Regions from separate parts of the Homo sapiens genome. Here regions 2, 3, 4 and 5 are each linked to region 1. The links come from fine-mapping of genetic effects on gene expression. A gene starts in region 1. Each other region holds a variant in brackets. All regions are shown on one strand. Distances are from middle to middle. Region 1 holds the start of PTPRU (protein tyrosine phosphatase receptor type U). Region 2 overlaps PTPRU (protein tyrosine phosphatase receptor type U). Region 3 overlaps PTPRU (protein tyrosine phosphatase receptor type U). Region 4 overlaps PTPRU (protein tyrosine phosphatase receptor type U). Region 5 overlaps PTPRU (protein tyrosine phosphatase receptor type U).

The links. PIP is the estimated chance that this variant, and not a neighbour inherited with it, causes the effect.
Region 2: its variant is the best candidate, but not a certain one, in a credible set for the expression of PTPRU in blood mononuclear cells (TOPMed, PIP 0.73).
Region 3: its variant is the best candidate, but not a certain one, in a credible set for the expression of PTPRU in atrial appendage (GTEx, PIP 0.90).
Region 4: its variant is the best candidate, but not a certain one, in a credible set for the expression of PTPRU in skeletal muscle (GTEx, PIP 0.50).
Region 5: its variant is the best candidate, but not a certain one, in a credible set for the expression of PTPRU in spinal cord (GTEx, PIP 0.72).

The regions. Positions count from the first base shown.
Region 1 is chr1:29,233,932-29,239,032 of GRCh38, forward strand. It overlaps PTPRU (protein tyrosine phosphatase receptor type U), which reads left to right and starts at 2,591. Exons shown (of 30, transcript NM_133178.4): 1 at 2,591-2,786. The coding sequence starts at 2,714. RefSeq lists a silencer at 2,394-2,713.
Region 2 is chr1:29,259,155-29,264,255 of GRCh38, forward strand. It overlaps PTPRU (protein tyrosine phosphatase receptor type U), which reads left to right. Exons shown (of 30, transcript NM_133178.4): 4 at 107-188; 5 at 295-410; 6 at 716-890; 7 at 1,456-1,749. Among named protein-coding and RNA genes, the nearest start is that of PTPRU, 25 kb to the left of the region's middle. The variant A/T (reference allele first, on the strand shown) is at 2,805.
Region 3 is chr1:29,292,762-29,297,862 of GRCh38, forward strand. All of the region lies in intron 15 of PTPRU (protein tyrosine phosphatase receptor type U), which reads left to right. Among named protein-coding and RNA genes, the nearest start is that of LINC01756, 55 kb to the right of the region's middle. The variant A/AACATGAAGCTGTGCC (reference allele first, on the strand shown) is at 2,214.
Region 4 is chr1:29,311,879-29,316,979 of GRCh38, forward strand. It overlaps PTPRU (protein tyrosine phosphatase receptor type U), which reads left to right. Exons shown (of 30, transcript NM_133178.4): 22 at 674-828; 23 at 3,494-3,629; 24 at 4,124-4,273. Among named protein-coding and RNA genes, the nearest start is that of LINC01756, 36 kb to the right of the region's middle. RefSeq lists enhancers at 373-950, 951-1,526 and a silencer at 1,259-1,553. The variant C/T (reference allele first, on the strand shown) is at 2,542.
Region 5 is chr1:29,267,444-29,272,544 of GRCh38, forward strand. All of the region lies in intron 7 of PTPRU (protein tyrosine phosphatase receptor type U), which reads left to right. Among named protein-coding and RNA genes, the nearest start is that of PTPRU, 33 kb to the left of the region's middle. The variant G/C (reference allele first, on the strand shown) is at 2,129.

The DNA of each region.
Region 1 (5,101 bases):
GGTAAAACTCCTATTTTGAGGCTCTCTCAAGAGCCCTCTGCAAACAGCACCCTTGGTTGTTTCTTCTGTTCACTGGTTTTCTCTCCTTGAGTTTCCTTTTCTGGGTGGGCCTCTCTGGCTCCTCTCTGCTCCAGCGTCTCTGTATCTTAGTTTCTTCCCTAAGGTTTCCCCTTGGTTTCTTCTTGCTTCTGCCTCCCTCTCCCTATTTAATTATCTGTGTCTAATTCTTGCCTGCTGTGTCTTTTGGTCCCTTTCCTAACTCAGTGTGGAGCTCATCAGCTCTCACAAGAGAGGAGACCAAGAGCCCAGGAACTCTCAACCCAGCGATACCTCCTCCAGCCCCAGGGCAGCTTCAAGGTGTGTCCATCTCAGCATGAAGCCAGCTAGGAGGGGCAGGGCACAGGGAGGGCCTACATATACCTTGAACTCCTACGCTTTGTTCAGTGTCACTGCCCAGTGGTCAGACCCATCTGCCCATGGCTTTCCCTACTTCAGCAGTCTTTATAGCTGGAGCTGTAAAAAAAAAAAAACAAAAAAAAAAAAACCCAGAGATCAGAACTTATTACTCCTTATTACTCCTCTGCTTAATTACTCCACTTCAGTGGCCTCCCATTAATTACTCTTAGGGTTGAACCTCAAGCCCCTTCCTTGCTCATAGTTTCTTGCCTGACCTACAGACCCTGCTGACTTGTCTAGCTGCACCTGGCTCCCTTCTGCCCCTGACTCACTCCATGCCAGCTGCCCGGCTTCCTTGCAGCTGCTTGTACCCACCAGCTCCTGCCTTTGCACAGGCTGTCCCCTCTGACTGCAATGTTCCTCTCCACTGATTTGCATGAGGTTGGCTCCTTCTCATACTTCAGGTCTCAGTTCAAATGTCACCATGTCACTTCTATAGCAAAGCCCTCTTGGACCACTTATCTAAAGGAGATGCCCCTTCCCTATGTTCTTTATCATTATACTCCCTCGTTTCCTTTAGCTTGCATATCTTAGATGGTAATGATATATTTATGTACATGTTTGCTGTTGGGCTCTCCTAATAGAATGTAAGATTCATGAAGGCTAGGACCATTTCCCTTTCATTCATTCCATCCAGTCAGTATTTATTGAGCATCAATTACGTGCCAGAGGCCGGGCGCGGTGGCTCACGCCTGTAATCCCTGCACATTGGGAGACTGAGGCAGGTGGATCACCTGAGGTCAGGAGTTCCAGACCAGCCTGGCCAACATGGTGAAACCCTGTCTCTACTAAAAATACGAAAATTAGCCGGGCGTGGTGGTGGGCACCTGTAATCCCAGTTACTTGGGAGGCTGAGCCAGGAGAATTGTTGGAGCCTGGGAGGCAGAGGTTGCAATGAGCCAAGACTGCGCCATTGCACTCCAGCCTGGGCAACAAGAGTGAAACTCCATCTTGAAATAAAATAAAATAAAATAAAATAATAAAAACATGCCATATACTGGGCACGGAAATACAAGATGAGTCTTTTCCCAAGGGAGCTCATTTCTAGAGGTGGAGACAGATAATGAACTCATCATATAGCCCGCACTCTATTTGAAATTGCAACAATTCCCCTTCCCTTCCCTGTCCCCCCACCACCCCCAAATTTCCTGGTGTATGAGACAGTGATAAAGGACGTACACCAGAGGGTTTGCTTTTTTGTTTTTGTTTTTTTGGTTGTTTACTGTTCTTGTCTTCCCACTGGAATGTAAGGTCCATGAGAGTAGGGAATTTTTGTCTGTTTTATATCTCTACCCTGGCCTATAGTAATTGTTGAATAAATGAATAGACCCCAATAAATATTTGTTGAATGAATAGGTGTCCAGATGGGAGGAAGGTCTCAGCCCCTATTCAATTCAAACCAAACAACTTTGATTCAAATCTCGGTGCTGTCAAATACTGTTGCATAACAGTATTTATGCAGTATAATTATTGCATACCTAATATATGATGATTAAATGAGTCCATGTGGGTTAAACACATAGAAGGTACCTGGTCTTACATAGTAATGAGCAACGAGTTTGCAGATCATAGTGCGAGGGCTCGTTCTGGGTAGAGGCCCAAATACATTTAACCTGTGTAGCCAGAAGGTAGAGTAGGACCAGTGAGGGCTAGTGAGGGAGGTAGACTTGCACGTCATGAAATGAAAAACTTTCTAAAAGCCGGCGTTTCCAAAGCCCCAACAACCGCTCTTGGCCAGGTGATGAGCGCCCTGTTCCTGGAGGTATGTAGAACACGCATTTGAAGGCGCCAAGGTACAAGGGATTCAGGCATCGGATGGGACAGAGGCCGGGTGTCCCTGGGTCACCGTCCCTGAGAGCGCTGTACGGGAGCTAGGCGTGGGCCATGAGCGTGCTCGCCTGGCAGTGTTGGTGCCCGGTCCGTGGAGACGTCCGTGGGCGTCCAGACCCAGCCGCGGGGCCTCATGGCGGGGAGGATGCGGGAGCGGGGGAGGGGCGCGCCAGGGCTAGCGGGCGGCCGGACCCGCTGCAGCACCCGCCGTGGCCAGCAGGGAGCGCCGCGAGACCGCCGAACCCGCGGCCGGGCCTGACGTCAGCGCCCCGCTTGCTCCGGCTCGCGCTCTGGACTCGGCGCCAGTCCCGCTCCGCGCCGCGCCGCTCCGCTCCGGCTCGGGCTCCGGCTCGCCTCGGGCTGGGCTCGGGCTCCGGGGGCGGCGTCCCCCGCGCCGGGCCCCGGGACGGGCGGCGACGCTCCAACCATGGCCCGTGCCCAGGCGCTCGTGCTGGCACTCACCTTCCAGCTCTGCGCGCCGGAGACCGAGACTCCGGCAGGTAAGCGCGCGGCGGCCGGACCGAGCCTGCCCCGCCGAGCCTCGGGGCCCGTGGCGTAGCTCGGAAGAAAGTGTGAGTGTTGAGTGACCGGGCGTTACGAGCGTGCTCCCTGTGTGTGTCTGAGCGTAGGATGGGCGATTGTGTGCCCGGGGTGTTGCGTGACTGCGAATGTTGTGTGTCCGTGAGTTCTGTGCGCAAGAAAAGGTGATGTGTGTCGGCGAGTATGTTGGGGGTGAATGTTGTGTGCATCGAGGCATTGGGTGTGCGCTGAGTGTCTTGTGGGTCTGCCAGTGTGTAGTGTTTGTGTGGCCAAGTGGGTTGTGTGTGCATCTGAGTTTGGTTGTGTTGCGGGAGTTGTATCTGCTAATGTGTTGCATTTGTTTGCATTTTGTATGCCTGGCCGGGAGTGCTGTTTGTTTTGTGTCTGCGAGTGGGTTGTGTGTTTGTGTTATGCCTGTGGCCAAGGGTGCTCTCTGGATCCCGCCTGAGTGTGGATCCGGGAACGCGTGTGTGGCGTGTGTGCTTTTGAGATCCGTGTACATGTGTGAAGGCGTGGGAACGGGTCCGGAACGTGTGTGTCCGTGCGCTGTGTACGTGTGGGGAGTGTCTAGGGTATGTGGTGTGTGCTGCCGGGGGCCGCGTGGGTCCGAGTGAATGCCAAGTGTGCCGGGAATGCGTGTGTGGGAGCGAGTCTGGAACGGATGTGAGTGTGTGCGAATGTGTCCGTGTGTGCTGGCTGCGCGTCCAGGAATGTTGCGAGTGTGGAGCGCGCCTGGGCCGCGGCTGCGAGTGTGCCCTGGTCCCGGGGCCGCCCGAGGGGGCGGTGGCAGGACGTGTGTGCGCGCGTGTGCGTGTGCGCGTGTGTGGCGCGCTGGGCCGGAACAAGTTGTCGCGGCGGCGCCCCCTGGGCTGCCCGGGTCGGGCAGGGCCCGAGGCTCAGGGGAGGACCGGGCCCCGCGGCCGCCGCCTCGGGCATGTCGGACTGTTTGTTGTTTCGCAAGTTCCGCGCGGCGCTGGCGGGCGGCTGATCCGAGGCGGCGCCGGGGCTGCGGGGCGCCCGGGCCAGCGGGCCCCAGCGAGGGGCCGGCGGGCGGGCAGGGGAGGGCCGGACCGGCGGGCGCTCCTGCGGTGGCCGGGCCGCGGCTGCGCCCCGGGCGGCCGGGCGGGGGCTGTCCCCGGGCTGGGCTGCGACGTCCGGGCGCGGGCAGGGCCTGGCTCGCCGCCGGGGGACGGCGCCCCCTCCCTTGGCGCGCAGGACGCGCGGGGGACGCCCGGGCCTCCCGGGACACTCCCTTGGTGGAGCCTGCAACTTTGTGCGGCCTCCCGGCCGGCCGGGACCGCCAGGTGTGTGCTTGAGTGTGAGCGTGAGTGTGAGCGTGTGGCTCCGCGCTTGTCTGCTGTGTGGTCGCGTTCTCCGGGTGTGTTTCGGAGTCTGGTGTCTTTGGTGTGCGTGCGCGTGTGTGTGTGCGCGCAGCTGAATGTATGTATACGGAGCCTGTGTTTGTGTGTCCGTGTGCTCGTCGGAGTGTGGACGGTGTGTCGGATGTGTGTGCGTGCGCGTGTTCCACATCCCACCCTGAGGCCTGGGATCCTAGACCGCGGCCCCTTCCCGCGGAGTTTCGGGGCCCTGCTCCGGGTGACCTCCCCCGCCCTCGCCACCGGCGGGGCTGCTCCGCGGGCTCCGGGTAGCCGGGAGACGCCCGGGGCGGGATCCGAGCCGAGACACGTGCTGGAGCGGAGCCGCTTCCTCACGGTCGCCAGCCGCAGACAACTGACCTCCCCGGCATCGCGTTCGCGGCCCTGCTGCTGGCTCCGGTGTCTCGGGCCGGAACTCCTGTGGCTCCAGCGTTCGCGCCGGCCACTGGCCAGCGCTTGGGCCTCGCCCTGCAGCTCCGGGGCCATAGGGCACAGCTTTAGCTTTGACCTCCCCGTTCCCGAAAGGACGCCCAAGGCGACCTCCCACCCCATCCTCCCCAACTTCTCCCCCATGTCCTGCGGCAACTTTGCCTCCCTCTCCCACCGTGAAATCAAACCCGCGGGGTTCTGTATGCGCCCCATCCCCGCTCCTACCACCATCGCTTTGATTTCAAGAACACTCACAAGCCCCAAGCCCTGCCAGCAGGAGGACTGTCAGGAACTGAAGTTTGGGAGTGAGGCCTAGAGCAGGTTACTCCCATTCTTGATGCCTCAGTTTCCTCTTCTGCCTCATAGCCATCATGATAATGGTGTATGGCACTTTTGGTAGATACCAAGTACCTTGTAAAGTAAGGCTCTGTCTGTGAGTGCCAGGGAACAAAAAATGGATTTGAGAGTTG
Region 2 (5,101 bases), 25 kb after region 1:
TCTGCTAGTTGAGGCAGAGGAGGCTGAGGCCGAGCTGAAAGTGGGCACCTCCCCAGGCAAGGCTGGAGGAATATCAGTATGATAGGGGCCCTCCCGCCTCCCCCAGGTGCTGTTTGAGGCCCTCATCTCCCCAGACCGCAGGGGCTACATGGGCCTAGATGACATCCTGCTTCTCAGCTACCCCTGCGGTGAGTCCCAGCCCACTGGGGGCGCAGGGGTAAGGGGTGTGGGCGGCCGCGGCTCCTGCCTGCAGGGGGTGCAGGCCCAGCTCACGATGCAGCTCTAACCCCGCAGCAAAGGCCCCACACTTCTCCCGCCTGGGCGACGTGGAGGTCAACGCGGGCCAGAACGCGTCGTTCCAGTGCATGGCCGCGGGCAGAGCGGCCGAGGCCGAACGCTTCCTCTTGCAAGTGAGCGGGAGCGGTGATCTTGGCTGGGGGCGGGGTGGGAGGGGGTTGGTGGCTGCTTCTGGCCCTGACTCCCCCCAGATTGCTGAGTCCCTGCTTCATACTCCAGCACTGCGCACAGCGTCCCGGCCCTCCCCTAGCTCTGCTCTGCGCTTTCTTGGGTCCCCCATTCCCCCAGGTTAGAGCGCGGCTCCAGGAACCTATGTCCGCGCGGTGTAGTAGGGACGGCTAAATGGGGCCCGGGTCAGAGCGAGATCGGGACCCCTCGCTCCGAGGCGCCCCTGACCCCCTCACTCTCTTCCCTGCAGCGGCAGAGCGGGGCGCTGGTGCCGGCGGCGGGCGTGCGGCACATCAGCCACCGGCGCTTCCTGGCCACTTTCCCGCTGGCTGCCGTGAGCCGCGCCGAGCAGGACCTGTACCGCTGTGTGTCCCAGGCCCCGCGCGGCGCGGGCGTCTCTAACTTCGCGGAGCTCATCGTCAAGGGTCAGCTGGTGGACGCCGGGGAGCGCCGGGACCTCACCCTCGAGGGGCGGGGCCGGCGACGGGGGCGGGCTCTGCCCGGGGGCGTGGCCGTGGGGGGTGGGGCCGGCAGGGTGTCGCTGGGGCGCTATCTGAAGATGGGCCTGTGGAAATGGCAGTGGCCCAGCCGGGATGAGATCTGATCTAGGGGTCGGGGCTGGCTTCGAGGGGGACGGACAGGGTCAAGGTGAGAGCCTAAAGAGGGGTGGGGTTCTGGCTGTGTGACTTCTGTGTTGATCCTAGCTGGCCTGCGGTCCGCTCCAGGAGGCGAGGATGTGGGGGATTAGGAGGGGCCTGAGAGAGGGGTTGTGGGCTGATGGGCGAGGGCGGGGTCAGCCTTTGGAGCCAGGTGCCCCTTAGGGCCCGGGATTTAGTGGGGGTAGGAGAGCGGGTCTGGTTGAGGGCTTGGTAGCAGCGTGAGAGGCCCTAGGAGGACGGAGAGGGATTTGGGTGTGGTGGAACTCAGAGTTGGGTGCTGGGGTCTCACAGCAGCATCGGTCCGCCTCGCCTCTCCCCCATCTCCTCGCAGAGCCCCCAACTCCCATCGCGCCCCCACAGCTGCTGCGTGCTGGCCCCACCTACCTCATCATCCAGCTCAACACCAACTCCATCATTGGCGACGGGCCGATCGTGCGCAAGGAGATTGAGTACCGCATGGCGCGCGGGCCCTGGGCTGAGGTGCACGCCGTCAGCCTGCAGACCTACAAGCTGTGGCACCTCGACCCCGACACAGAGTATGAGATCAGCGTGCTGCTCACGCGTCCCGGAGACGGCGGCACTGGCCGCCCTGGGCCACCCCTCATCAGCCGCACCAAATGCGCAGGTGGGTGCAGCAGCTACCCCTGGCCTCAGTCTCTGGTGGGCCCAGGGCTATGGAGGGGCGCATTCGAGAGGTAGCGTGGCCTGTGCTTGTAAACCTTTCTAAAACATTGTGATTTTTCCTCAACCCTTGTTATGGTAAAGATAATGATAGCTAATACTTTACTTTGTGTCAGGCACTTAAACATATCTGTGTGTAGACACACACACAAACCCATATTTATAGATTTAAAACTTACAACACTACCACGATGTAGGTGCTCTTGTCGTACCCATTTTAGATGTGACTGAGGTACAGAGATGTTAAGTGACTGGCCCAAGAGCACACAGCTAGTAAGTGGCAGAGATGGGATTGGAACTCTTGACTGGCTGACTCCAGAATCTGTGTTCTTAATTCTACATCTAGATAAAATAAGCAACTAAATACCATCAAATACAAGTATATTATACATTCTAGCTGGTTTCTCTTGTCTGGGTGTTGAGCCTGAGGTCTGCTCTTCCTTGTTAAAAAGGGCAAAGCAGCTGTTGGAGGATGGTACACCTGTGCCAGATGAGGGTCTTTTTTGTTTAATCAGAAGAGAAATTGAGAACACAATAGGTTTTTCTTTTTGTGACTTTAGTATTGTTGTTGTTATTATTTTTCCTTTTGAGACAGAGTTTTGCTCTGTCACCCAGGCTGGAGCACAGTGGCGCGATCTTGGTTCACTGCAACCTCCGCCTCCTGGGTTCAAGTGATTCTTCTCCTGCCTCAGCCTCCCGAGTAGCTGGGATTACAGGCATGCTCCACCATGCCTGGCTAATTTTTGTATTTTTACTGGAGACAGAGTTTCACCAGGTTGGCCAGGCTGGTCACAAACTCCTGACCTCAGGTGATCCACCCGCCTCGGCCTTCCAAAGTGCTAAGATTATAGGCGTGAGCCACCGTGCCTGGCTTAGTGTGTTTTTTTAATGGACTTACTAAGATAAATGTAGAGTCACATGCAGTTGTAAAAAAAATACAGAAAGATTCTCTGTGCAAGTCACCCTATTTTCTGCAGTGGTAACATGTTGCAAAACTAT[A/T]GCATAATATCACAGTCAAGATATTCACATTGATACAAACCACAGATCTTATTCAGACTTTTCTGGTTTTGCTTGTACTTGTTTGTGTGTGTGTATATGTGTATGTAGTTCTGCACAATTTATCACATGTGTAGGTTTGTGTATTCACCACTACAGTCAAAATACTGAATAGTTCAATCCCCTTAAGGACTCTTTTATAACCACATTCACCTCCCTTTCTTCCTCTACTCCCCAACTTTTGGTAGTCACTGATCTGTCCTTTCTAAAATTTTGTTGTTTCAAAAATATTATATGAATGAAATCAGAGTATATAACCTCTAGAATTGGCTTTTTTTGGATAACAGCTTTATTGCAATATAATCCACATCTCATACAATTCAATCCTTAAAATGTACAGTTCAGTGGTTTTTAGTATACGGTAGTCCCCGTGTATCTGAAGTTTCTCCTTCTATGGTTTTAGTTACCTGTGGTCAACTTGAGGCTTGAAAAGGTGAGTACAATACAATAAGATATTTTGAGAGAGAGAGACAGACCACATTTGTATAACTTTTATTATAGTGTGGTGTTGTAATTGTTCTATTTTATTATTAGTTATTGTTGTGAGCCTCTTACTGTGCCTAATGTAGAAATTAAACTTTATCATAGGTGTGTATGTATAGGAAAAACATAGTTTATCTAGGGTTCGGAACTCTCTGTGGTTTAAGGCATCCACTAGGGGTCTTGGAATGTGTCCCCTGCAGATATGGGGGGACTACTGTATTGACAGAGTTACACAACCATTAACTCAATTAATTAATTGAGTCAACCATTAACCATTAATCAATTTTGGAACATTTTCATCACCTCAGAAGGAAATTTTGTACTCTTTAGCAGTCATCCCCATTTCACTCGCACACCTCTAGCCCTAGGCAACCACTAATTTCCTTTCTGTCCCTATGGATTTGCCTCTCTGTGGACATTTCACATAAATGGAATCATATAATATATAATCTTTTGTGACTGGCTTCTTCCATTTATTTTATTATTTATTTATTTATTTATTATTAAGACGGAGTTTCACTCTGTCGCCAGGCTGGAGTGCAGTGGCGTGATCTCGGCTCACTGCAACCTCCACCTCCTGGGATCAAGGGATTCTCCTGCCTCAGCCTCCTGAGTAGCTGAGACTACAGGCACCCACCACCATGCCTGGCTAATTTTCGTATTTTTAGTAGAGATGGGGTTTGGCCATGTTGGCCAGGCTGGTCTCGAATTCCTGACATGAGGTGATCCGCCTGCCTTAGCCTCCCAAAGTGCTGGGATTACAGGCGTGAGCCACTGCACCTGACCCTTCTTCCATTTAACATGATGTTTTCAAGGTTTATCCTCATTGTAGCATGTATCAATACTCCATTCTTTTTTATTGCTTAATAATATTCCATTATACAAATATATCACATTTTATTTGTCATTCATCAGTTGATGGAAATTGGGGTTGTTTACACTTTTCAGCTATTATGAACAGTATTGCTATATTTGTGTACAGGTTTTTATATTGATATATGTTTTCATTTTTCTTATGTACCATATATATCATAAGATATCTCTGTGTTTATTCATTGAGGAACTGCTGGACTGTTTTCCAAAGCAGCTGTACCACTTTAAATTTCCACTACTTGTCTATGAGGGTTCTAGTTTCTCTGCATCCTTGTCACCACTTGTTATTATCTGTCTTCTTATAAGCACTCTAGTATATATGAAATGGTATCTCATTGTGATTTTGATTTGCATTACCCTGATGGCTAATGATATATCGAGCATTTTTTCATGTGCTTATTGACCATTTCTATATCTTCTTTGTAGAAATGTCTTCAGAGTGTTAAAAATGACCAATTTTTAAGTTGGGTTATTTGTCTTTTTATTATTGAGTTGTAAGATTATTTATATATTCTGAGTAGGCCGGGCATGGTGGTGGCTCATGCCTGTAATCCCAGCACTTTGGGGGGCCGAGGAGGGCAGATCATTTGAGGCCAGGAGTTTGAGACCAGCCTAGCTAACATGATGAAACCCAGCCTCTACCAAAAATACAAAAATTAGCCAGGTGTGGTGGTGGGCTGTTGTCCCAGCTACTCAGGAGGCTGAGGCACAAGAATCGCTTGAACCCGGGAGGTGGAGGTTGCAGTGAGCTGAGATGGTGCCACTGCACTCCAGCCTGGGTGACAGACTGAGATTCTGTCTCAAAAAAAAAAAAGGAGTATTTATATATTCTGGACACTAGATGCTTATCAGATGTTTATGTTTGCAAATACTTTCTCCCATTC
Region 3 (5,101 bases), 59 kb after region 1:
GGCTATATCCCCTACCTCTTTCTTAGATGTAAATATTCCCTTGAAATTGTTGTGTTTTTTTTTTTTTTTTGTGAGATGGAGTCTCACTCTATCACCCAGGCTGGAGTGCAGTGGCATGATCTCGGCTCACTGTAACCTCTGCCTCCCAGGTTCAAACAATTTTCCTGCCTTAACCTCCCAAGTAGCTGGGATTACAGGCACCTGCCACCATACCCGGCTAATTTTTTTGTTTTTTTGAGATGGAGTCTCACTCTGTTGCCCAGGCTGGAGTGCAGTGGTGTGATCTTGGCTCACTGTAACCTCTGCCTCCAGGGTTGGAGCAATTCTCCTGGCTCAGCCTCCTGAGTAGCTGGGATTACAGGTGTGCGCCACCACACCCAGATAATTTTTGTATTTTTAGTAGATGGGGTTTCACCATGTTGGCCAGGCTGGTCTTGAACTCCTGACCTTAGGTGATCCACCCACCTTGGCCTCCCAGAGTCTTGGGATTACAGGCGTGAGCCACCGCACCTGGCCAGTTTTTGTATTTTTAGTAGAGACAGGGTTTCACCATGTTAGCCACGCTGTTAGCCACGCTGGTCTCGAACTCCTGACCTCAATTGATCTGTCCGCCTCAGCCTCCCAAAGTGTTGGGATTACTGGCGTGAGTCACTGTGCCCAGCCTCCCTTGAAATTTGTGTTTATAATTTTCCTACCTTTTTCGGGGGTAGTTTTTTGTTTTTTTTTTTTTTGAGACGGAGTCTCCCTCTGTCACCCAGGCTGGAGTGCAGTGGCGCAATCTCCGCTCACTGCAAGCTCCGCCTCCCGCATTCATGCCATTCTTCTGCCTCAGTCTCCCTAGTAGCTGGGACTACAGGCGCCCGCCACTGCGCCCGGCTAATTTTTTGTATTTTTAATAGAGACGGGATTTCACCGTGTTAGCCAGGATGGTCTCGATCTCCTGACCTCGTGATCCACCTGCCTCGACCTCCCAAAGTGCTGGGATTACAGGCGTGAGCCACTGCGCCCGGACTTTTGGGGGTAGTTTTACCATGTGTACATATATCCCCAAACAACGCATTGTATAGTTTTGCTCATTTTCATCCTTTATAAAAATGAAATCACACACTACTTAACTCCACATCATATTTAAATTTACCCATGTGGATGTTTTGCTGCAGTTCATTTACTTTCTCTGATGCGTAGTTTCCCATTGTATGGCTGTATCACAATTGACTTCTCCATTCTGCCATCCATGGGCATTCGATTGGTTTTTAGTTTTCTTGTTATCACAAATGAGACTGCTGTGAATATTCTGATGTGGATGTCTAGATGCACCTGCACACAAGGTTCTAGAAATAGAATTGCTGGATTATGGAGTACGTGCATCTTCAGCTTAATAAGAGTGCCAAGTTGCTTTCCAAAGCAACTCTGCCTGTTTTCTTTCCTAGCAGCAGTGTGTAAGACTTTCTGTTGCTCTACATCAAGATCAAAATTTGCCAGCCTTTTTCACTTCTGCCACATTAGTTTGTATAAAATGGTAATTCTCTATAGTCTTAATTTGCATTTCACTGATGACTAATGAAGTTGAACGTATTTTCAAGTCATCAATGGCCATTCAGGTCTCTTTTTCCATGAAATGCCTGTTCATGTCTTTCACCTAATTTTCTATTGGGTTTTCTGTTGCTTTCTTAGTGGTTTTTAGGAGTTCTTTATATATTTAGGATAATAATCATTTGTCACTTGTGAATTGCAAATATCTCCTCCCAATTTGTGGCTTATCTTCCTAGGTTATTTATAGTGTCTTTGGATGAACAGAAGATTTTTATTTTTGTGTATTTAAATTCATCAGTCTTTTTCTTTGTGATTTCTACTTTTTGTGTTTTTTAAAGAAGTTTTCCCTATCCAAAGTTATAAAATATTTTTTGCTTTTTTTCTAGAACTTATAACATTTTACATTTTATATTTAAATCTTTATCCATCTGGAATTGATTTTTGTGTGTGGTGGTATAAGTTAAGGATTTTATTTTTTCCATGGTGATAAGCCACTGTCCCAGCATCATTTATTATAGTTCACGCTTTCCCTGCTGATTTGCAGTGCCATCTTTCTCGCACACCCCATTTCTACAGATAAGTAGATCATTTTTCAGTTCCCTGTTTCTTTCATTGGTTGGTTTGGTTGATTCCTAACCACACGGTCTAATTATCGAGGCTATTTAAGTCTTGATATCTGA[A/AACATGAAGCTGTGCC]ACATGAAGCTGTGCCAACTTTGTGCTTCATCAAGGATGTCTTGGCTATTTTTGTTTTCATTCTCTCTCTCTGTCTTAATGAGATAGGATCTAGCTCTGTCACCCAGGCTGGAGTGCAGTGGCACAATCTGGGCTCACTGCAACCTTCGTCTTCCGGGCTCAAGCGATCTCCCACCTCAGCCTCCCGAGGAGCTGGGACTACAGGGGCGCACCACCATGCCTGGCTAATCTTTGCATTTTTTTTTTTTTGGTAGAGACGGGGTTTCACTATGTTACTCCAGGCTGGTCTCAAACTCCTGGGCTCCAGTGATCTGCCCGCCTCAGCCTCCCAAAGTGTTGGGATTACAGGCATGAGCCATCACGCTCGGCTAATTCTCTTTGTTATAAATTTTAGAGTCATCTCTTTAAGTTTCTTGAAAAACTTTGTTGGATGGTTTTGTATTGAATTTATAGATCAATTTGGAAGAATCGCCATCTTATGAAATTGTCTTTCCACCCATGAAAGTGATTTATATTGCCCCATTTATTTAGGTCTTGAATGTCTTTCAATAATTCTCTCCATAAAATCTTGTACATCTTTTTTTAGATAGATGTCCCTAGGTTCTTTATTTTTGACTTCTATTGCAAATGGTACACTTTTCAAATATTACATTTCCATTTCTTATATAGAGAAATGCAGTTTATTTTTGATTGCATATTGATCTTACATTCATACTTCTTTTTTTTTTGTGAGACGGAGTCTCACTCTGTCACCCAGGCTGGAGTGCAGTGGCGCAATCTCAGCTCACTCCAACCTCTGCCTCCCTGGTTCAAGTGATTCTCCTGCTTCAGCCTCCCAAGTAGCTGGGACTACAGACGTGCGCCACCATGCCCAGCTAATTTTTGTATTTTTTTTTAGTAGAGATGGGGTTTCACCATGTTGACCAGGCCAGTCTCGCACTCCTGACCTCAGGTGATCCACCCACCTTGGCCTCTCGAAGTGCTGAGATTACAGGCATGAGCCACCGTGCCTAGCCTTATATACATACTTCTCGATATGCTTTCTTATTCTCATTTCTCTGTAGAATGTTTCAGGCTTTCTGAGCAGTTAAAGGATCTGTGAATATCCTTTGCAGAAGAAATAGTTGTTTTTTCTTTCCCACTTCTTATTCTTTTTCCCCATGTTTTTTTGGCTGGGACCTCCGGTACTGTGTTGAATAGACTGGTTGTAGCTGGAATCCTTGTCTTCTTTTCCTGACTTTAACAGGAATGTTTCTAACATTTAAACACAGAATGAAGATTGCTTTGGGGTTTTGGTAGAAATGTTTTTATCAGGCTAACCAAATTCCTTTTAGTTTTTAGTTTGCTGAGAGGTTTTAAGTGGGCATTAAACTTACCAAATACTTTTTTCTGCAATTATTGTGATAATTATTTTTTCCCCTTTTGTCTGCTAATGGGATGAGTGACATTTTTAGATTTTTAAAAAATTACCTTAAATTCCTGGGATAAATTCAACTTGGTCATGATGATTATGATGTTTCCTTTCCTTTCTTTTTTTTTTTTTTTTCTTTTTGAGATAGGGTTTCACCCTGTTGCCCAGGCTGGACTATAGTGGTGTGATCATGGTTCACTGCAACCTCGACCTCCTGGGCTCAAGTGATCCTCCTACCTCAGCCTCCTGAATAGCTGGGATGACAGGTGCCCACTGTCATGCCTTGCTACTTTGTTTTTTTTTTTTTTGTATTTTTTGTAGAGACAGGGTTTTGTCATGTTGTCCAGGTTGGTCTTGAACCCCTGGGCCCAAGCGATTTACTTGTCTTTGCCTCTCAAAGTGCTGGGATTACAGGTGTGAGCCACCGTGTCTGGCCAGATTTTAAAGTTCTAATTTGGTATATTTAAAGGACTAAACAACTATTCAGGCTTTCTATTTTTTTAAAAATAGAAAGTTATATTTTTGATAAGTTATATTTGTCTAGGTATTTGGCCATTTTATTTATGTTTTTAAACTCAGTGTTATGCACTTATTAATCATATTCTCCTTGTAATCTCTCTTATTAAATTTTCACCATTTTATACCATTTTACCCTGCTTAGTAGCTGTTTTTTTTTTTTTTTTTTTGAAACAGGGTCTCACTGTGTCGCCCAGGCTGGAGTGCAGTGGTGCAATCCTGGCTCACTGCAACCCTCTGCCTCCCGGGTTCAAGTGATTCTCCTGCCTCAGCCTCCCTAGTAGCTGGGACTACAGGCACCTGCCATCATGCCTGGCTAATTTTTGTATTTTTTGTAGAGACGGGGTTTCACTATGTTGGCCAGGCTGGTCTCGAACTCCTGACCTCAAGTGATCCACCCGTCTTGGCCTCCCAAAGTGCTGAGATTACAGGTGTGAGCCACCGCACCTGCCTGCTTAGTAGCTGTTATTAACCCTTCAGCTTACAAATCAGGAAACAGAGGCTTGGAGAGGGGAAGTCACTTGTCCAGGTTAAATAGCCAGAAAGTGGCAGAGTCAGGACTTAAATGCAAGTCTTTCTGAATTGCAAATTTGTTTCTACTGCATCATGCTGCACCTCGAGGGATGGGTAGGATTCAGACCGCAGAGATGGGAAGGAAAGGGCATGTGTAGAGGAGGCACTGTATGTGCAAATGTGTGGTGATAGGCATGGGAGGAGACAGGGAGAGGTGTGACTGCACTAAATCCTCCAGTGGGTGCTAGAGAGAGCGGGAGATCAGGGTGGTGTGGGCTCATGCCTAACCGCTGAGTCTTGCTGAGAGACAGAGAGAGGCAGGAAACATGGGCTCTGCTCCTGGGATTCACTGATGAGTTGGGGAGTCAGGACTGACCCAGGGAAGTCGGGACCAGGCTAATTGCTATGTGGATAGTGGGGACAATCAGTGCTGTTAGTTTTGAGAAAA
Region 4 (5,101 bases), 78 kb after region 1:
AAGGAAGCTACTTGGTCACTGTTGGCTGGGAGCACTCTAGAAGGGCAGGAAGGTCACTGCCTTTGTTGGTGCCCATAGGAGGAAGCTGAGACAATGAAGGGGGTGACAGTATCTGCCAGGTGCTGGCTCCTACTCTGTGCTGAGCCTGTTATAAATATTGTTTCAGTCCTGGAAAGCTCCGTGTGATTAGCCCAGATACAGAAAGTGAGGCTCAGAGGGCTTATGCCAGGCAGGAGAGGCCACATAGTCAGTGGCTGGCCAGCGAGTCCTGTCCACGATCCCATTTGATCTGCTCTGTAAAGTCCTCAGAGGAAAGATAGTTTTTTTTCCTTTAAATTAAGACCCTGGGAGTCAAAATGATATATGTTTACACAACAACCTGGTGGCAGAGGTGAGTATTTCACAGCCCAGGTTTAGGCATCAGGCAGACCATTGTCCAAATCCTGCATGTTGTTGGTTTCTCTAACCTTGGGAAAGTGGTTTCTCCTCTTTGAGCCTTAGTTTTCTTGTTTGTACAATGGGACATTAATACCTACTTCATCAGTAAATTGATCATTGGGATTAGTTGAGATTATACAATGAGATGCTTACTGCAGTGCCTGGCACACAGCAGGTGTCTAATGGTGACAGATGCTGCCAGGGACTCTGATTATTATTCCCATTGTCTCCCCAGAGAGGCTACTCTGCCCGGCACGAGGTCCGCCAGTTCCACTTCACAGCGTGGCCAGAGCATGGCGTCCCCTACCATGCCACGGGGCTGCTGGCTTTCATCCGGCGCGTGAAGGCCTCCACCCCACCTGATGCCGGGCCCATTGTCATCCACTGCAGGTGGGGGCACCGGGAATCCCAAGGAGAAAAGGGGCCCTTCTCCCTGGGAATTTGGGCTTGGGGTCAGGTTGGTTCAGGATCTGTAGTGGGGACCAGGCCTGGGTTCTCCTGCTTAGAGATGGAGTGCAGGAGGGAACGACCCCCAAAGGCCCTGTCCCCTTTGGCCTTTGGCTCTGAGGTTGGCATCTTCATGTGCCCCCCAAGACCTGTGAAGCCCCTTGACCCAGGTGCTGAGGAGGCACTGGAGATAGGGAGGGGCCTCCGGGCCGCTGAGGCGCCAGGCACGATTGAGTTCTGCCTGCTTTCAGTAAGCAGCTTTTTGTTGCACACCTGCCGCGTGCTAGGCCTGGCCTGGGGGTGGGAAGGACTTCACTTCTCTCCACCAAACCCAGTGGGCCTTGCCTACCCCTTGGCCTTCACACCTTCTGCAGACCCTGACTGGCTCCCGTGACCCCAGCTGCCCCTCCTCTCTCTGCTTTCTCCCTGGCTCCACATCTTTCTCTTGCTTCTTAAATGGGGACCCAGTACGCTGTCCTGGCCTGCCCTCTGTCTCCCCCTGGAGAGCGTAACCCCCAACCTTTGTGGCTTTGTCCATGGCCTCTGTGTCTCATTGCGGTTCCTCTACTGTGTTCTTATCAGCTCCCCAAATGCCGCATGGTAGAGTCGTCCTCCCTGCCCTGCCACCTAAACCAGCTTCTCTTTGATTTCTTTAGGCCTCTTTAAGATGCCATCTTTTAAAAACAAAACTTTATTGATATATAATACACTTAAAGCAAAGTGCAGAAATATGTTTAAAAATATGAATTTTCATAAACTGAGCACACTTGTGAAAAAACCAGCTCTACTGAGATTAAGAAACAGAACATTGGCTGGGCACAGGGGCTCATGCCTGTAATCTCAGCACTTTGGGAAGCCAAGGTGGGAGGATCATTTGAGGCCCAAAGTTCGAGACCAGCCTGGGCAACATAGTGAGACCTCATTGCTACAAAAATAAAAAAATTAGTGGGTTGTGGTGGCACAAGCCTGTAGTCCCAGCTACCTGTGAGGCTGAGGTGGGAAGTTTGTTTGAGTATGGGAGTTCCAGGTTACAGTAAACTGTAATTGCACCACTGTACTCCAGCCTGGGCAACAGAGCGAGACTCTGCCTCTAAAAAAAAATTTTTTTTTAAAGTTAAGAAAGGAGCAGAACATGAACAGTTCCCAGAAGCCCCCTTGAACCCGTTTCTGGCCTGAATTCCCCCATCCCCAGTCCCAGAGAAATCACTATTCTGACTTCTAAAGCGCAGTTAGTTGCACATGTTTTTGGACTTGTCATAAATGGAATCATACAGCATGTGCTCTTTGCTGTTTGTCTTCTTTCCCTGAGCCTTAGGTTTGTGAGGCTCGTCCACAGTGGATCATCGTCCATCAAGTGAATAAATGACAGTGTGTTTGTCCATTCTGCCATGATAGGCATTTGGGTTGTTTCCAGTCTTAAGCTATTATGAGTAGTGCTGCTAAGGACATTCGATCGTATGTCTTTTGGCCAAGAAATGTATTTCTTTCTGTGTGGTATGTACGTAGGAGTAGAACTGTTATCTGTGTGAACGTTCAGCTTTAGGAGATATTGCTGAGCAGTTTTACAAGGGGGTTGTGCTAAGTTAAGCCCCACCAGGGGTATTTGGGGTATTCAGTTGCTGTATGTCCTCGCTAGCACGTGGATGCCACTGTTTT[C/T]AAACCTGAAATCTTGCTGTCATCTTTGTCCACTCTCCTTCCCCCTCAGCTCTGCACAACCTTGCGTGAGGACAATGATCTTGATGTGCCCCCAGTCAAGTTAGGGAGACAGCCACATAAACAATGACCATGTAGCAGGAAGAGTGTTTTATTGAATTAATTAATTTTTTTTTTTTGAGACAGGATCTTGTTCTGTCATCCAGGCTGGAGTGCAGTGGTGTGGTCTTGGTTCACTGCAACCTCCATCTCCCGGGTTCAAGCGATTCTTCTGCCTCAGCCTCCTGAGTAGCTGGAATTACAGGCACGTGCCACCACACCCGGCTATTTTTTGTATTTTTTGGTAGAGACAGGGTTTCACTATGTTGGCCAGGCTGGTCTCGAACTCCTGACCTCAAGTGATCCACCCACTTCGGCCTCCCAGAGTGCTGGGATTACAGGCCTGAGCCACCGTGCCTGGCCACGAAGAGTGTTTTAATAAAAACCTGCCCACGTTGCTTTGGGAACTCAAAAGAATGACATCATCCTGGAAGGGTCAGGGATGCTCCAGTGGGTATGTGAATGGGTATGAGTGTGTGGGCTTTTCAAGGATGTGTAGGAGATTTGGTGGTTTTCAGGAGGAAAGAACATTCTTGAATTAGCTCGGAGGATCATCATTCCTGTTCTCTCCTAATCTTAAGTTGCTAGGTTGAGCCAGTGTCACCTTTGCATTCTCCCCACCCTCTCTCCTCTCCTTCCCTGAGGCCCATCCCATCTCTGTCCTCTAGCACATTTCACTAGAGCTCTTCCATCCAGCAGCCTGCGTCCTGGCTCCTTACTCGGGGAGGGGCAGTCATCTCTGTGTCCGTGTCCCCTGTATGGTGTAGACATGGCCAGTGCCCTCCTCTCTTCTTCTCCTTAGTCCCGGGCTTCCTCCCCAAAGCTCTGACCTGGTCTGGGGCTGCTCTCTCTCCAGCGCGGGCACCGGCCGCACAGGTTGCTATATCGTCCTGGATGTGATGCTGGACATGGCAGAGTGTGAGGGCGTCGTGGACATTTACAACTGTGTGAAGACTCTCTGCTCCCGGCGTGTCAACATGATCCAGACTGAGGTGCGGGGACCTGGCCCTGTCCCCACCATTATTACTTCTAGGACTGGAGTTTCTCGTGAAGGATCCTGGAGCCGGCAGAGCATGCCCAAAGGGTGTCCTGAGGCTCTTGCCTTCCCTCAGATCATCCCTGACCTTGGGCCGCCAACTGCATAGGGTCATCCTGAACTGCTCCCCTGTGTTCTGTTGGGTGGGGTCAGACAACCGGTCCTGTAGCTGACATACCTGGGATTGCATCCTCAGTGGATGTGTGACCGTGAGCTGTCCCCCACCTCTCAGAGCACTCACAGAGTTGTTATAGGGGGTAGGGATGAAATAGGAGATAAAGGGGCATGTCCATGGAGGTTGTTTCAGGTAGGCTTGGTCCAGCCTGTAGTAACATGGTTGGCCTCCACCTCAGGACACCCTGCTTCAACCTTGAGCTTGCTTAAGCCCCATCACCACAGATCTCCAGCTTCTAGGCCCCTCCTCGGCCTCATTCTCATCTCCTGTTCCAGGAGCAGTACATCTTCATTCATGATGCAATCCTGGAGGCCTGCCTGTGTGGGGAGACCACCATCCCTGTCAGTGAGTTCAAGGCCACCTACAAGGAGATGATCCGCATTGATCCTCAGAGTAATTCCTCCCAGCTGCGGGAAGAGTTCCAGGTGGGGGATGAGTGCGTGTGTATAGGTGTGTGTGTGTGTGTCTGTGTGTGTGTTGGGGCATCCTTAATACTGCAGGAGTCATTGAGGGCCAAGAAGCAGGGACCAGCCTGAGGCCACAGCTGGAGGGACAGAGCTGAGCTACCAGGAAGGACTTTGGGACAGCGGAAGATGGGGTGCATCAAAGCAGTTAAGAGCCCAGGCTTTGAAGTCAGATAAACCCAGGTTCAAATCCTGGCTTACCTAGTTAAGAGCTGTGAGTATCCTTGAACAGTTCCCTTTACCTCTCTGAGCCTCAGTTTTGTTACCCAGAGAAGAGAAGTAGTTAATATGTCCCTTGGGGTGTTTGTATTCATTGGGATTCTTTTGGTTGTGAGTGATGAAAATCCAGCTTTTATAACTGAAAAGTCTGAGGATCGTGCAGCTTCAGTTGTAGCTGGATCCAGGGGCTCAGATGATGATGCCAACAGGTGGTTTCTGTCTGCCTTGGTTCTGCTCTCCTATTTTTGGCTTCATTCTCAGACCTGCACCTGGCCGCCAGCAGTGCTGGGCTCCCATCATCTCTATTGTCTGGTGACTTAGGAAAAAGGCGCTTGCTGCTCCCAGCATCCCCCCAACAGTCCTAGATCAGACTTTCATGTTCCCATCCCTGGACCAGTCACAGGTTGGAGAGGTGGAGCTCACTGATTGCCCCTGGCTCTGGTCACATGCCCAAGGCCTGGCTCTTGGGGCAGGACCAGCCTCACCATATCACATGGCTGAGATGGGAAAAGGCTGGTTCTCCAGAGAAGCCTGAGAGCGATCACTGGGTGGCAGAGACCTCAGAAGTCC
Region 5 (5,101 bases), 34 kb after region 1:
ATTTTTAAAAGTCTCAAGGGAAGGTGACATTTGAGCAGAGATCTGAAGGAGGTGAGGGACTGAGCCGTGCAGAGAGCTGGGGGCTTGCTGGGGGAAGCAAGCACCAGCCCGACTGAGCAGCCAGCACAAAGGCCTGGAGGCTGGAGAATGCTTGGCACGTGCAAGGGGCATCCAGGAGACCAGTGTCACTGTGTTAGTGACTGAGTGGGAGATGGCAGGAGAAGAGGCTGAAGTTGAGCTGCAGATGTGGGACTTAGAGCCGTTGTACACAGAGAGAGCTGGGGAGCCACTGAAGAGTTTAGAGAGCAGGAGTGAGCATCATCTACTTTTGTTTAAAAGGATCACTCTGGCCCTTTTGTGGAGAATGTTCTCCAGGAGGGCAAAGGTGCCGCAGAGACCAGGGAGGAGGCTACTGCAATGATCTGCTTAAGAGGTGGTGATGGCTGGGAGCCGAGTGGAAGTGGTGGTGGTGGGGAGAAGTGGTCAGATTCTGGGTTTATTTTAAAGGCAGAGCTAACTGCATTTGCTGATGGATTGAATATGGGATGAGAGAAAGGGAAATAGAAGTCAAGGATGGCTCCAAGGTGTTTTGCTAGAGCAGCAGGAATGATGGAGCTGTCATTTCCTGGAGCGGACTGTGGTGGCAGCTGATTTGACGTGGGTGTCATAGATCAGGAGTTCTGTGTTGGAAATGTTGACTTCGAGATCCCTATTAGACATTCAAGTGGAGATATTCATCAGCAGATGGATACATGAGTGTGGAGTTCAGGGAAGGGGTTCGGGCTGCAGATAGAAATTTGAAAGTCATCAGTGTGGAGATGGTATAGATGGCATTTAAAGCCCTGAGGTTGGATGAGATCTTTTACGCTAATGGTTCTCAACTAGGGGCAATTTTGTCTCCTAGGAGACATTTGACAGTGACTGAGGACATAACCGTTGTCACAACTGGGTGGCGGCAATGGGGTGTTACTGGCATCTAAAGGGATAGAGGCCAGGGAAGCTGCTAAACATCCTACAATGCACAGACAGCCACATAAGAAAGAATTATCTAGTCTAAAATGTTCATAGTGCTGAGGTTGAGAATCCCCGATTCAGTCCTTAGATTTTTAGGGAATAAATGTAGATGGAAGAAAGAGGAGTTGGAAAGCCTGAACCTTGGAGCCTCCAGTGTTTTGGGTTAAATGCAGACAATTGCAGGGAAATGCATTAAATGCATGTGAAGTATAGCGCTTAACACACAGTAAGCACCCAGTAAATGATGGTGTTTTTAATCTTTCAAAGGCAGTTCTGGTTTGCCACTTAGGATAAAAGGAATCATAGCACAGGGTTCCGCAGAGGATCTCTATTGCACTCCCCTTAGTGTACAGATGGGGAAGCTGAAACCCAGAGAGGGGAAGAGACTTGGCTGTGATCAGACAGTGGGTCAAGAACCCAGGTTTCATGATGACGGCTGTTGATTATTCCCATTTTACAGATGAATAAACTCAGATTTAGAGATTTAGCCACTTGTACAAATCTACACAGTGAGTCCATGGCAGAGCTTGAATCAAAATTTGAATCTCTTGATTTCTCATCCAGTGTTTTGTTTTAGTTTTTTGTTTTATTTTGTTTTTAGAGACAGGGTCTCACTCTGTCACCTGGGCTGGAGTGCAGTGGCACGATCATAGCTCACTGCGTGCAGCCTTGAACTCCTGGGCTCAAGTGATCCTCTTGCTTCAGCCTCCTAAGCAGCTGGGGCTACAGGCTTGCACCACCATGCCCAGCTAATTTATATACATATATATATATATATATATATATATATTTTTTTTTTTTTTTTTTTTTTTTTTTTTGTAGAGACAGGGTTTCACTCTGTTGCTCAGGCTGATCTTAAACTCCTGGCTTCAAGGGATCCTCCTGTTTCAGCCTCCCAAAGTGCTGGGATTACAGACAGGAGCCAGTGCATCCAGCCTAATCCAGTGTTTTTAACAGCAGCAGCAGCAGCTGCTGCTGCCACCATCATGGGCTGAATGCCCACTTTGTGCTGGGCACTGTGAAACAGTTTTCATAGGCTGGCCAGGACGGAAGCTGGGGCAGGGGCCTGGCAGACAGGGTGCAAACACCTCCCCCTGCCCTTCTGAATTACACG[G/C]TTCTCTTTGTTGACATCATGGCCCCTCCCTGCTTAGGCGCGTTGGCCGGCAGTTGTTTTGCTGTTGGCCAGCTGTGTTGTCATCTCCTCCATCCCCATGAAACTCCCCTCGCACTATATTATTTACTGTAAAAACAATAATATAGCATCAGGCGAAGGCATTTTTTAAAATAAGCACTCCGAAGCTCATCATCCTAGCCCAACAGCTGTTTTAATTTTTCTGACTTCTTCACATCTCTGCCCATATGCCTGCAGTAGACATTTTTACACCCTTGCATTGGGATGTAGAAAGCATTTCGTATGCTGCTTCATTTGCTTGGTGTTGTTACGTGTGTTATGTTGTTTATAATTATGTTTACTGACTCTAGAAGTCCATTGAATGTCCCCATTTAGCTGGACTGTTTGCCTCCAGACTTCTATAATGATAAATAATACTATATTGAGAAACCTAGCGCTTGTAGTTCTTCCCTTCTCCCCCCACCCTGAGTTATTTCTTTAGGATAAAGTGTCAGGAGTGGTTGAAGAAAGGGCTTTTAAATATATTGCTTTAAAAAATGGTTGTGCCAATTTATACTGCTACTGGCATCTCATGTTAATGCACACATGTTTATTAATTACTATAGACTGGTAATGACTGTAGGCTGGTAATGACTGTAGGCTGGGCAATTTGACTCATATTATCTCATGTAACTCTCACATTTGCTCTTTAAAGTAGGCATCATAATCTCCATTTGTTTGTTTTTGTTTCTTTTTTTGACAGAGCCTCACTCTGTCACCCAGGCTGGAGTGCAGTGGCATGATCTTGGCTCACCGCTTCCTCTACCTCCCGGGCTGAAGCTATTCACCCACCTCAGCCTCCCAAGTAGCTGGGACTACAGGCGCGCACCACCATGCCTGGCTAATTTTTATATTTTTGTAGAGATGAGGTCTCACTACTATGTTGCCCATGAAGGTCTCGAACCCCTGAGCGATCCTGCCTTGGCTTCCCAAAATGCTGAGATTACAGGCATGAGCTACTGCACCCAGCCATAATCTCCATTTTTTAGTGGAGGAACCTGACATCAACATTCAAAGGGGGTTAAGTAACTTGCCTGAAGCCACAGAACTATGGCCAGGTGCAGTGGCTCATGCCTGTAATCCCAGAACTTTGGGAGGCTGAGGCAGGTGGATCACTTCAGCTCAGGAGATTGAGACCAGACTGGGGCAACATGGTGAAACCCTGTCTCTACAAAAAACACAAAACAAATTAACCAGGTGCATGGTGGCACATGCCTGTGGTCCCAGCTACTCAGGAAGGTGAGGTGGGAGGATTGAGACTGCAGTGAGCCAATGATAGCACCACTGCACTCCAGCCTGGGTGACAGTGAGACTGTGTCTCAAAAAAACAAACACAAACAAACAAAGAAAAAAAAGAACTAATGAGAGGTGGAGATAGGATGTGAACTTGGGTGTACCAGATCCCAGTCCAAAGCTCCTCCCATGAGAAAAAGTTGAACATTTCAGGGTTATTGCATCTTGTTTAGCCTTACTAAAGTCAACACATGGTGGCCTAATTCAACAGCTGTTAAATGTTATCCTCATTGTTTTAATGTGCATTTTGACCTCTGATCTCGGAGTGACCTGTAGCCCTGTGTAATTTAGAGGGATGGGGCTTTGAGGTCCCCAAGTTCTGTTTTGTCAGCGTGTGTTGACAGTTGAAGAGAGTGTGTCTGGGTGCCAGATGGTTTTTAGAAACGTGGAGAAACTCATGGATTCACACCCCTCAATCAACATATCAGTCTGTAGTCAACAAACTATTTGAGCTCCCTGGATCTGTCCAGATATGATCAGGGTAGGCAGGAAGAAAAAAGAAAAGTGGACCTTCTTTTCAAAGAGCTCTCAGTCTACCTGGGTGGATGGGAGGTGGCACAGTTGTCAAAGAATGAGATGCCTAAGTCTGAAGTTGGGAGTTTCATCCTCCAAAGTTGCTATCTTGGGCCCTGTAAGGTGATTTGAAGAAGCTTGAGTAGGTTGCCAGTATTTAAAAATCTGGAGATTTCACATAAAAATTGGAATTTCTGGCTCCTCTTGAAAAATGGGAGGATCTGGCAACTCTGAACCTGTAGTCCTGCCTGGCAACAGTCATCTAGAGGTGAGCAGTAGCTGCCCCTTTTGGATGGGACACTACTGTCCTGTTTGCCGTGGTCTTTACCCAGCATACGTCCCCCGTTTACATGGAACTTCTCCTGCCCTTCTGTAAATGCTGCAGGAGGACTAGGAAGCAGAATGCTTCTGCCAAGCCCTAGAGGCTGGAAAGGAATGCAGGGCAGCATTCCAGGGGGTGGGGATGGTGTGAGCTGAGCTGCAGGGAACAGAGAGCCACTCCCAGTAGTGCAAATAAAGCAGTGGTACCTCGGCTCTTGTAGACTCCCAGGACAGTGCACACAGGGCAGCCACCTCGGCTCTTGTAGACTCCCAGGACAGTGCACACAGGGCAGCCAGGACCACAGCCAGAGAGTTGAAGAATAACGCGAGGACCTCTGGGAAAGATGGCAAGTGAGCACACCCCAGATCTGCCTCCTCTGGCGCAAACATAGAAGAATGATGGCTTAAAACAAAACTACATTAAAAAAATTAGAAAAATCTCTATGGGCCAGGAATGGGAGAGAAAACCTAAGTGTGGTGAATGGGCTTGCAGCCCACAGTACCCAGGATACAGGGAGCAGTGGCAGCCAGCCCCTCAGTGTCCATATGGGATGGGATTTGGGTGGTCCCTGCTTGTGGGGAGAAGGGAGCCAGTCAGGAGGCAGGCTTTGTTCCTAGTGAGTGCTGAAATCTCTCTTCGATGGCTCCATGTATAACTGGAGACATGCTGCTTGCCTGCATTCCAGGGAAGAAAGGAAACCTTCTGGGTGGAAACAGAATCTTGTATTGTGCTGTACATGGGGCCAGTGTTGAAAACTGTGTTACTGGTGCACTCCCAAGATAGGAGCA